Linked DNA regions of Homo sapiens: region 1 is linked to region 2. The links come from fine-mapping of genetic effects on gene expression. A gene starts in region 2. The other region holds a variant in brackets. All regions are shown on one strand. Distances are from middle to middle.

The links. PIP is the estimated chance that this variant, and not a neighbour inherited with it, causes the effect. A credible set is the group of variants that fine-mapping cannot tell apart.
Region 1: its variant is the best candidate, but not a certain one, in a credible set for the expression of CTDSPL2 in whole blood (TOPMed, PIP 0.69).

Annotation. Positions count from the first base shown.
Region 1 is chr15:44,581,040-44,585,039 of GRCh38, reverse strand. SPG11 (SPG11 vesicle trafficking associated, spatacsin) reads left to right here. Exons shown (of 40, transcript NM_025137.4): 30 at 482-1,226. Among named protein-coding and RNA genes, the nearest start is that of EIF3J, 46 kb to the right of the region's middle. RefSeq lists silencers at 596-645, 2,463-2,634. The variant TC/C (reference allele first, on the strand shown) is at 2,278.
Region 2 is chr15:44,425,795-44,430,319 of GRCh38, reverse strand. It overlaps CTDSPL2 (CTD small phosphatase like 2), which reads right to left and starts at 2,691. Exons shown (of 13, transcript NM_016396.3): 1 at 2,548-2,691. LOC124903479 (a long non-coding RNA gene) reads right to left here. Exons shown (of 3, transcript XR_007064605.1): 2 at 4,347-4,525; 3 at 4,003-4,026. RefSeq lists enhancers at 1,967-2,573, 2,638-3,017, 2,574-3,181, 3,298-3,527, 3,182-3,789.

The DNA of each region.
Region 1 (4,000 bases), 150 kb before region 2:
GATCAATCAAGAATTGTTTTTCATACCATAACTTTCCAGATAAAATATCTAGGGTCATCTGTAGCCAAATCTCTGTTCTCTGATTTGATTTGGTTTTAACAAGTATGATAAGGCCAGGTGCAGTGGCTCATGCCTATAATCCCAGCACTTTGGGAGGGCAAGGCAGGAGGATTGCTTGAGCCCAGGAGTTTAAGACCAGCCTGGGCAACATAGGGAGACCCTGTCTCTACAAAAAATTAAAAATTAGCCAGGCATGATGGCACACACCTGTGGTCCCAGCTACCTGGGAGGCTGAGGTGGGAGGATCTCTTGGGTCCAGCAGGTTGAGGCTGCAGTGTGCTGTGATCGCCACCACTGCTCTCCAGCCTGGGTGACAGACTGAGACCCTGTCCAAACAAGTATGATATACTTAGGGAACATTAGCATTTATGATACTTTTTTATCCAAGAAAGGCTAAAATCTGCTTTGTTAAATTTCACAGATAACACAGGAAATGCAGACCCTAAAACACATTGAACAGTGGTCACTAAAACAAGCAAGAATTGACTTCTGGAAAAAATGCCATGAGAATTTTAAGAAAAATTCAATTTCAAGCAAAGCAGCTTCTTCCTTTTTCTCAACCCAGGCCCATGTGGCATGTGAGCACCCAACTGGATGGAGCAGCATGGAGGAGCGCCATCTGCTGCTCACCTTGGCAGGGCACTGGCTTGCCCAGGAGGACGTGGTGCCCTTGGATAAGCTGGAGGAGCTGGAGAAGCAGATCTGGCTGTGCCGCATCACCCAGCACACTCTTGGAAGAAATCAGGAGGAAACAGAGCCCAGATTTTCTCGACAGATCTCAACTAGTGGTGAACTTTCCTTTGATAGTTTAGCCAGTGAGTTTTCCTTCTCCAAGTTGGCTGCTCTGAACACATCAAAATACTTAGAACTTAACAGCCTTCCATCCAAAGAGACATGCGAGAATAGATTGGATTGGAAAGAGCAGGAGTCACTAAACTTTTTGATTGGGCGCCTACTGGATGATGGCTGTGTGCATGAAGCAAGTAGAGTATGCCGGTATTTTCATTTTTATAATCCAGATGTCGCCTTGGTATTGCACTGCAGAGCACTGGCCTCAGGGGAAGCTAGTATGGAGGATCTGCACCCAGAGATCCATGCTCTCCTACAAAGTGCTGAGCTGCTTGAGGAAGAAGCACCCGACATTCCCCTAAGGAGAGTCCACAGCAGTAAGTGAAGGAGATCAGATGGCCCAGAGTCTTAAATGGCACTGTTAGCACTGTCTCCAAGAAGGAAGGGACCCTTGTGGCAGAATAGTTCTACCAAGTTAAGGGGACAACAACTTTTTTCCAGGTAATCTGTAGACTAGCCAATTAACTAGGCAATGAAATAGAAAGATCTATGTCTTTTAAACTAGCTATGTTTCAAAGTTAAAGGGAATCTATCTGATTTGTAGCTAGTTCACTGAAATTTATTCTACATATTCTATACATCTGTAAATTTAATCATTTCCAGTCTTACATTGATAGTATATAGAAATATGGCTTTTTGTTTTTCTTTTTGGTTTTTTGTTTTTTGTTTTTTGAGATGGTGTTTCATTCTTGTCGCCCAGGCTGGAGTGCAATGGTGTGGTCTCAGCTCACTGCAACCTCCGCCTCCCAGGTTCAAGTGATTCTCCTGCCTTAGCTTCCCAAGTAGCTGGGATTACTGGCTAATTTTTGTATTAGTAGAGACCGGGTTTCACCATGTTGGCCAGGCTGGTCTCGAACTCCTGACCTCAGGCGATTCGTCCACCTCGGCCTCCCAAAGTGCCGAGATTATAGGGCGTGAGCCACCGCACCCGGCCAGAAATCTGTTTTTTATGTTACCTTTATATGACTTTGTTAAACTTGCTTATTCTAGGAGATTTCTTGTAGATTCCTCAAGATTTTCTACATAGACATTCATGTCATCTGCAAATAGAGTTGTATTTCTGCCTTTCCAATCTGTATGCCTTTTATTTCTTGTTCTTGCTTTATTGCACTGACTAGGCCTTTCAGTACTGTGTTGGATAGGGGTGGCGAGAGTGGACATCTGTACCTTTTTACTGACCTTAAAGGGAAATTATTTGATCTTTCATCATTTAAGTATGGTATTAGCTGTAGGTTTTTGAAGACAGGCTTTATCATGTTGAAAAAGTTCCCTTCTGTTCCTGGTTTGCTGAGAATTTTTATCATAAATCAGTTTGAATTTTGTCATGTTATTGCTGTATCTGTTAATCTGATCATGTGGTTTTTTTTT[TC/C]GTTAGACTATTAATATAGTAGATTACATTAGTTGATTTTTTAATATTGGACCAGCCTTGAATTCCCCATTTACATAAATCCAATTTGGGCCTGGTGCGTTATTCTTTTTGATTTTTTGCTGGAATCAATTTGCTGTTTTGTTAAAGATTTTTACATGTATGTTCATGAGGAATGTTATTCTGTAATTTTCTTTATTGTACTGTTTTTGTTTTTGAGATGGAGTCTCCCTCTGTCGCCCAGGCCAGAGTGTGGTGGCACAACCTCAGATCACTGCAACCTCTGCCTTTCAGGTTCAAGTGATTCGCCTGCCTCAGCCTCCCGAATAGCTGGGATTACAGGCGTGTACCACCACGCTTGGCTACTTTTTGTATTTTTAGTAGAGATGGGGTTCCACTATATTGGCCAGGCTGGTCTTGAACTCCTTACCTCAAGTGATCCGCCCATCTTGGTCTCCCAAAGTGCTGTGATTACCGGCTTGAGCCACCGTGCCCGGCCTTTTTTTATACTGTTTGGTTTTTGTATCAAGGTAATGTTGGTTTCATGAGTTAGAAAGTACTCCCTCCTCTTTTATTTTCTGGAAAACATTGTGTAGAACTGGTGTTATTTCTTCCTTAAATGCTTAGTAGAATTTACCAGTAAAACTATCTGAGACTGGAGATTTCCATTTTGGAAGATTTTAAACCACAAATTCAATTTCTTAAACAATTACAGGACTATTCAGGTTATCTTTCTTATCTTGGGTGAGTTTTAGCATTTTGTGATTTTCAAGGGAAACTTTTTCTTCTGCTTTTTGGGTTATTTGAACATTTTTTAGTCTTCCATTTTAATTTATTGTGATTTTGACTCTGCATCTTTGTATAGTTTAATTTTATTTTTTTAGAGATGACAGTGTACATCCTTAACTTTCCACAGTATACTTAGAATCAATATTTTACCACCTCAGCTGGAATGTAGGAGGAATCTTACCACCATTTTAGGTCACTTTATTCTTCTCCCTTTACATCCTACTTGTCTTTTATTACTTCTGCATACATTGAAAACCTCATTAAACAATGAGGTTTTTGCTCTTAGCCAAAAAATATATTTTAATAAACCCGCCTTGGCCTCCCAAAGTGCTGGGATTACAGGCGTGAGCCACCACGCCCAGCCTTTTTTTTTTTTTTAATAATCAGTTTTTCATCATCTGAGAATGTCTCTATTTTACTTTCATTCCTAAAGGATGTTTTGCTGGATATAGAAAATTAGTTATTTTCAGGCCAGGTGCAGTGGCTCACACCTGTAATTCCAGCACTTTGGGAGGCTGAGGCAGGCAGATCAGTTGAGCTCAGGAGTTCAAGACCAGCCTGGGCAACATGGCAAAACCCCGTCACTACAAAAAATACAAAAATTAGCCAGGTGTGTTGGCACATGCCTGTAGTCCCAGCTACTTGAGGGGCTAAGGCACGAGGATCGCTTGAGCCCAGGAGGATAAGGCTGCAGTGAGCCATGTTCATGCCACTGCACTCCAGCCTGGGCAACAAAGTAAGAACCTGTCTCAAAAAATAAATAAGAAAATTAGTTATTTTCTTTCAGTGCTTGAAAATGTTGTTCACTTCCTTTTCGCCTCCATGGTGTCTGATGAAAAATCTGCAGTCAGTTGAATCATTGTTCATCTATATAAACAGTGCCTATTTCTCTGGTTGCTCTCGATGTTTTTTTTTCTGTTGTTGGTCTTCAGCAGT
Region 2 (4,525 bases):
CCAACCTGGGCCACAAAGAGAGACCCCCATCTCTAAAAAATAAAAATAAAAATAAATGCCATTTTACTCAACTGACAATAAAATCTATAGCTACAAATCCAGAATCTAGTACATCCTTGGTGAACAACAGGTCCAAGTTTCTTTAACCAGAATTAGATGGACTCTGTTATATAATAATCTCATGAAAAACCACTTAAGCAGAAATCACAAACTTGAGATCAGCTAGATGAATCTGAAAAGAAAAGACTTCCCCAATTCTTAATTTCTTAACAGTGGGAAAACAGTAACATTACCAGCTCAAGTTAAATGCACAAGAGACACTATGTAGAATGGAATCTTGTGAAACATACAAACCCTGACATTCCTATGCAATCCTATTTAGATTTTCTATATAGCTACAAGTCCACAAAGGTTAAGGACTACATCATTTATAGCTTTTACATTCTTTTTTTTTGAGACGGAGTCTCGCTCTGTCACCAGGCTGGAGTACAGTGGGGTGGTCTTCAGCTCACTGCAGCCTCCGCCTCCTGGGTTCAAGCGATTCTCCTGTCTCAGCCTCCCGAGTAGCTGGGACTACAGGTGTGCACCACCATGCCCGGCTAATTTTTGTATTTTTAGTAGAGATGGAGTTTCACTATGTTGGCCAGGCTGTTCTCGAACTCCTGATCTTGTGATCCGCCTGCCTTGGCCTCCCAAAGTGCTGGGATTACAGGCGTGAGCCACCCCACCCAGCCAGCTTATACGTTCTTTCAACTCTGAGAAAGCATTAAAAGAGTGCAAGTACTGAATGCACGTAGTACTAAACAATTTAGGAGAACTCTTGAAAACAAGGTCTACAATGCTCACTCAGCTAGCTGCAAACTAATTTTTATTAAAAACATTAACGCTATTAACTACCCAAAAAGGTCATTAAAATACAGACAAAACCTACACACTAGACCAATGATTTAAGATCCCTTTAAGTTGCATATTTGGCTCCATTTTTTAAATAAACTGACTCGGCAAGTAGTTAACGTGCCTGTACCTCCACTATTCTATTCGCCTTAGGAAAGTATGAAGCTCAACTTAATCCTAAAAAACTCCTTCACATAAGAGCTACCTTTTGCCTTGACTTTCTTTATGACCTTGGGCAAAGTCTACCAAATGAGGATTATAATAATGTTTGTGTGTTCCTGTTTATTATTGAAAATTAACCATAACATCGTGCAAACAATAGTGAAATTCTCTAAACTGGACCTATCCAGAACTGAAAACCTGAGTTATAAATATCAACTGATATTCAATGTGAACAGTTTTTAAAATTTTAATTTGATTAGTGAAAACAAAAAAACCTACAAAGATCCCAAATTCAACATGATTAATAAATTCCGAAAACACCAACAGCCTCCTTATTACTTCTCTTTATGAACAATTGGTCTGCAATGTAATTTAAAAAAAAGGAAAGAAAAAGTAAAGAAATATAGTAAAACTAGCTTTAACACGCCATTTCCCTTTTCTAAGAATAAAAAATGGACCAGGAACGAAAATTTAAAACTGGGCGAAGAATGGGGAGACAAAGCAATCTACAATTTGAAAATTACACAGATAAATCCATCATTTCAAGTCACTAATTTGTATACCCACTGAAGAAATTCATCTTGGTACTGCGTTACCAGCATTAGGAAGATAAATCCCTGCCTCGGAGGAACATCTACTGAGTACGTTTCATTTCAGGATCTCAGGTAAGTTTACGAGCTCTTAGATCTCTTTAGGTTTCCCTAAGGTACGCTGAAGTGTTTAACATCATTCACACATCCAGCCACCACTAGGGTGAGAAGTAAATAAACAAGATTTACTTATGCAATTATTTACCACAGAACTCTGGTCAAGAATGCAAAAGTAAACACCCATACAGACATTTAAAATCCAAAGAAAGCAGAGAATATTAAGGATAATAAGGTTCACTCTTTAACTGACCACTGTGGAAACCAGACGCCTTCCACATGGACTGTTCTTTACTACCACTCCCGATTTGAAAAAGTAACAATGTCAACTCGAGATTTTAACAGTACAAAAGATAAACAGAACTTAGTCAAATCCCTTCTTCCAGATTCTGAAAAGGTGTTTATAAGAACTGAGATAAGAGCAACGCCCCCCTAAAAGCACCCTACTCCAAAGAATGAAATGCTGAAAACATGAGGTGGGCCAAAAAGGTTAAAAAAAGCTAAACTTCTAACTTAATTACCCAGAGGTTGGGGACTAGGAACTTGAGATCGGAGTGGGGGTGGGTAGCAAAGTGAAATCTAACCCCAGAAATCACAACGCAGGCCGCAACCTAAGAGGTGAAGCTGGCGGGAAGTGAGCTCCCTTTCTGTTCCCAGGGGAAAGTCCAGACAGGAGCGGCTCCGCACAGTGGACGTACGAGGCGCCAAAGAGTGCATGCCTACCAAGGCGCCAGAGCCGCTGGAGGACCAGGTTTAGAAGGGGAGGAGATCCCGGCAGACGGCCCTGGAAGAGGAGGAGGACTGAGATTGGAAGCAGCGGCGGCGTCTGGACGAAGGGGATTACCTAACTGTGACGACAGAGAAGTGTCCTCAGGCTCCGGCGATGGTCCCGACTGCGCAATGTGTGGTGTCTTTCCCGCTTACCCCGCAGCAGCAACAGAACCAGCTCCTTCAGCCAGTCGCCATTTCCCGCCTACCGACCTGCTGCACCGCACGGACAGGGACCCGGATGGAAAGCGGCCTCTCCGCGCAGGCGCCCTGACTTCCTCCTCCCCCTCCCGCCACAATTCCGCGAGGTGGGAGGGAAGGAATGCGGGCAGCCACAACGGCAACAACAACCAAAAAAACACTTTTACTTCCGTGAAGAGCGTTGAAGTTCCTTACGCCGGAAGAAACTCTCTAGTCTGAATCCTGGAGAAAAACTGAACACAAGGCCTTAGTACTGGGTCGATTAAGAAAGGACAAAACCTATCAGGATGAGCAAGGGCCTGGGGGATATTTGTACATTAGGGGCCTCCGTAGCCGGCTGTGTAGTGGTCGCAGGGGGAGTAGGGAGTAAAGCGTTAGGAGTGGAGAGGCGGGGACCCGAAGGACGGTTTTTCCTCCCGCTCCTAACGGAACTGCTTGGGCAGAGCTGGGAGGGGGAGCGCGCCCTTGCCCCGGAGGCGGGGCTTAGGAACGCGTAGTGCACCCTGGCGGCTAGGGTTTAGTAACTGTGGGCGCGCTGGGTAGGTGGAGCTGAGGGGATAAGGCGGGACTAACGGCTTGGCGCGCTGGAGGAGGTAGTTCGTAGGGAGAGCTGCCTGAGGCCGGGAGAAAGCGAATCTGGCGCCTTTCCTGGGATTTCGGTGGCCCTTGAAGGTTCCCTTTCCAGCTCATTGCCTAGAGGGCGTAGCAGTCGCTTTTGGATCATAAATATTCATGCCCTTCGACTCAACCCTATGTTGGCGGTGATTCTGCAGGTTGAAAACTCGGATCTTTCAGGCCAGTGGGCTCCCACCTGCGACCCTAGGTCAAAGGACGGTCAGCTCCACAGAGTGAAAATGTATCAGTCCAGAGAATCCAGTTCTAGTGGGGTATCGGAAAACCAAGCCTAGTGTTTGGAAGAACATTTTTCACTGAAACTCCAAGCCACTCTCCTTATTCAATCAAGAAATATTTATTGAAAAAATAACTAGGTGCGACGGGTAAAACAGTGAGCCAGGCAGACACGGATACTGCCTTCCCCAAAGGTAATGATTTTTTTTTTTTTTCGAGACGGAGTCTTCACTCTGTCGCCCAGGATGGAGTGCAGTGGCGCGATCTCGGCTCAAACCTCCACCTCCCGGGTTCAAGCGATTCTTCTGCCTCAGCCCCCCGAGAAGCTGGGATTACAGGCGCGCGCCACCACGACCGGCTAATTTTTGTATTTTTAGTAGAGACGGGGTTTCACCACGTTGGTCAGGCTGGTCTCGTACTCCTGACCTCGTGATCCGCCCGCTTCGGCCTCCCAAAGTGCTGGTATTACAGGCGTGAGCCACCGCGCCCGGCCAAAGATCATAATCTATTGAAGAAGACACCCAAGTAAACAGAATTTAAAAACTGATAAAGCGAATACAAGGATGGCATGATAGGCGTTGTAAAACACATGAGAGTGCCGGCGAGGGGGTCTGGGAAGGTTTCGTAAGATAACATCTGAGACAAAAAGGAGGAGTGTGTGTTGCAGGGGAAGAGTGTCTGGGTAAAGGAAACAACAGACGGAAAAGTCCAAAGATGAGACTGTGTTGAGCCATTGGAGAAGTAGTTCTGTGCGCTAAGAAAAGAGGATGGGAGGGCAGGGGGAAGATGGCAAGAGAGGCTGAGAAGTAAGCAGAAATAACATACCGTTGTGAATCTCATTATTTCGAAGTATGGAGCAGGTGGGTTGTCTTCTGAAAACCTTGTATACTACAGATTCTTCTGTCAGAGTTCATTTGCACCCTAAATCTTCCTAGTGCAAAAATGCTCTGAATGCGACATTTATTGGGAGCTGGTGGTATACACAGCACAGAACTATTAATAGT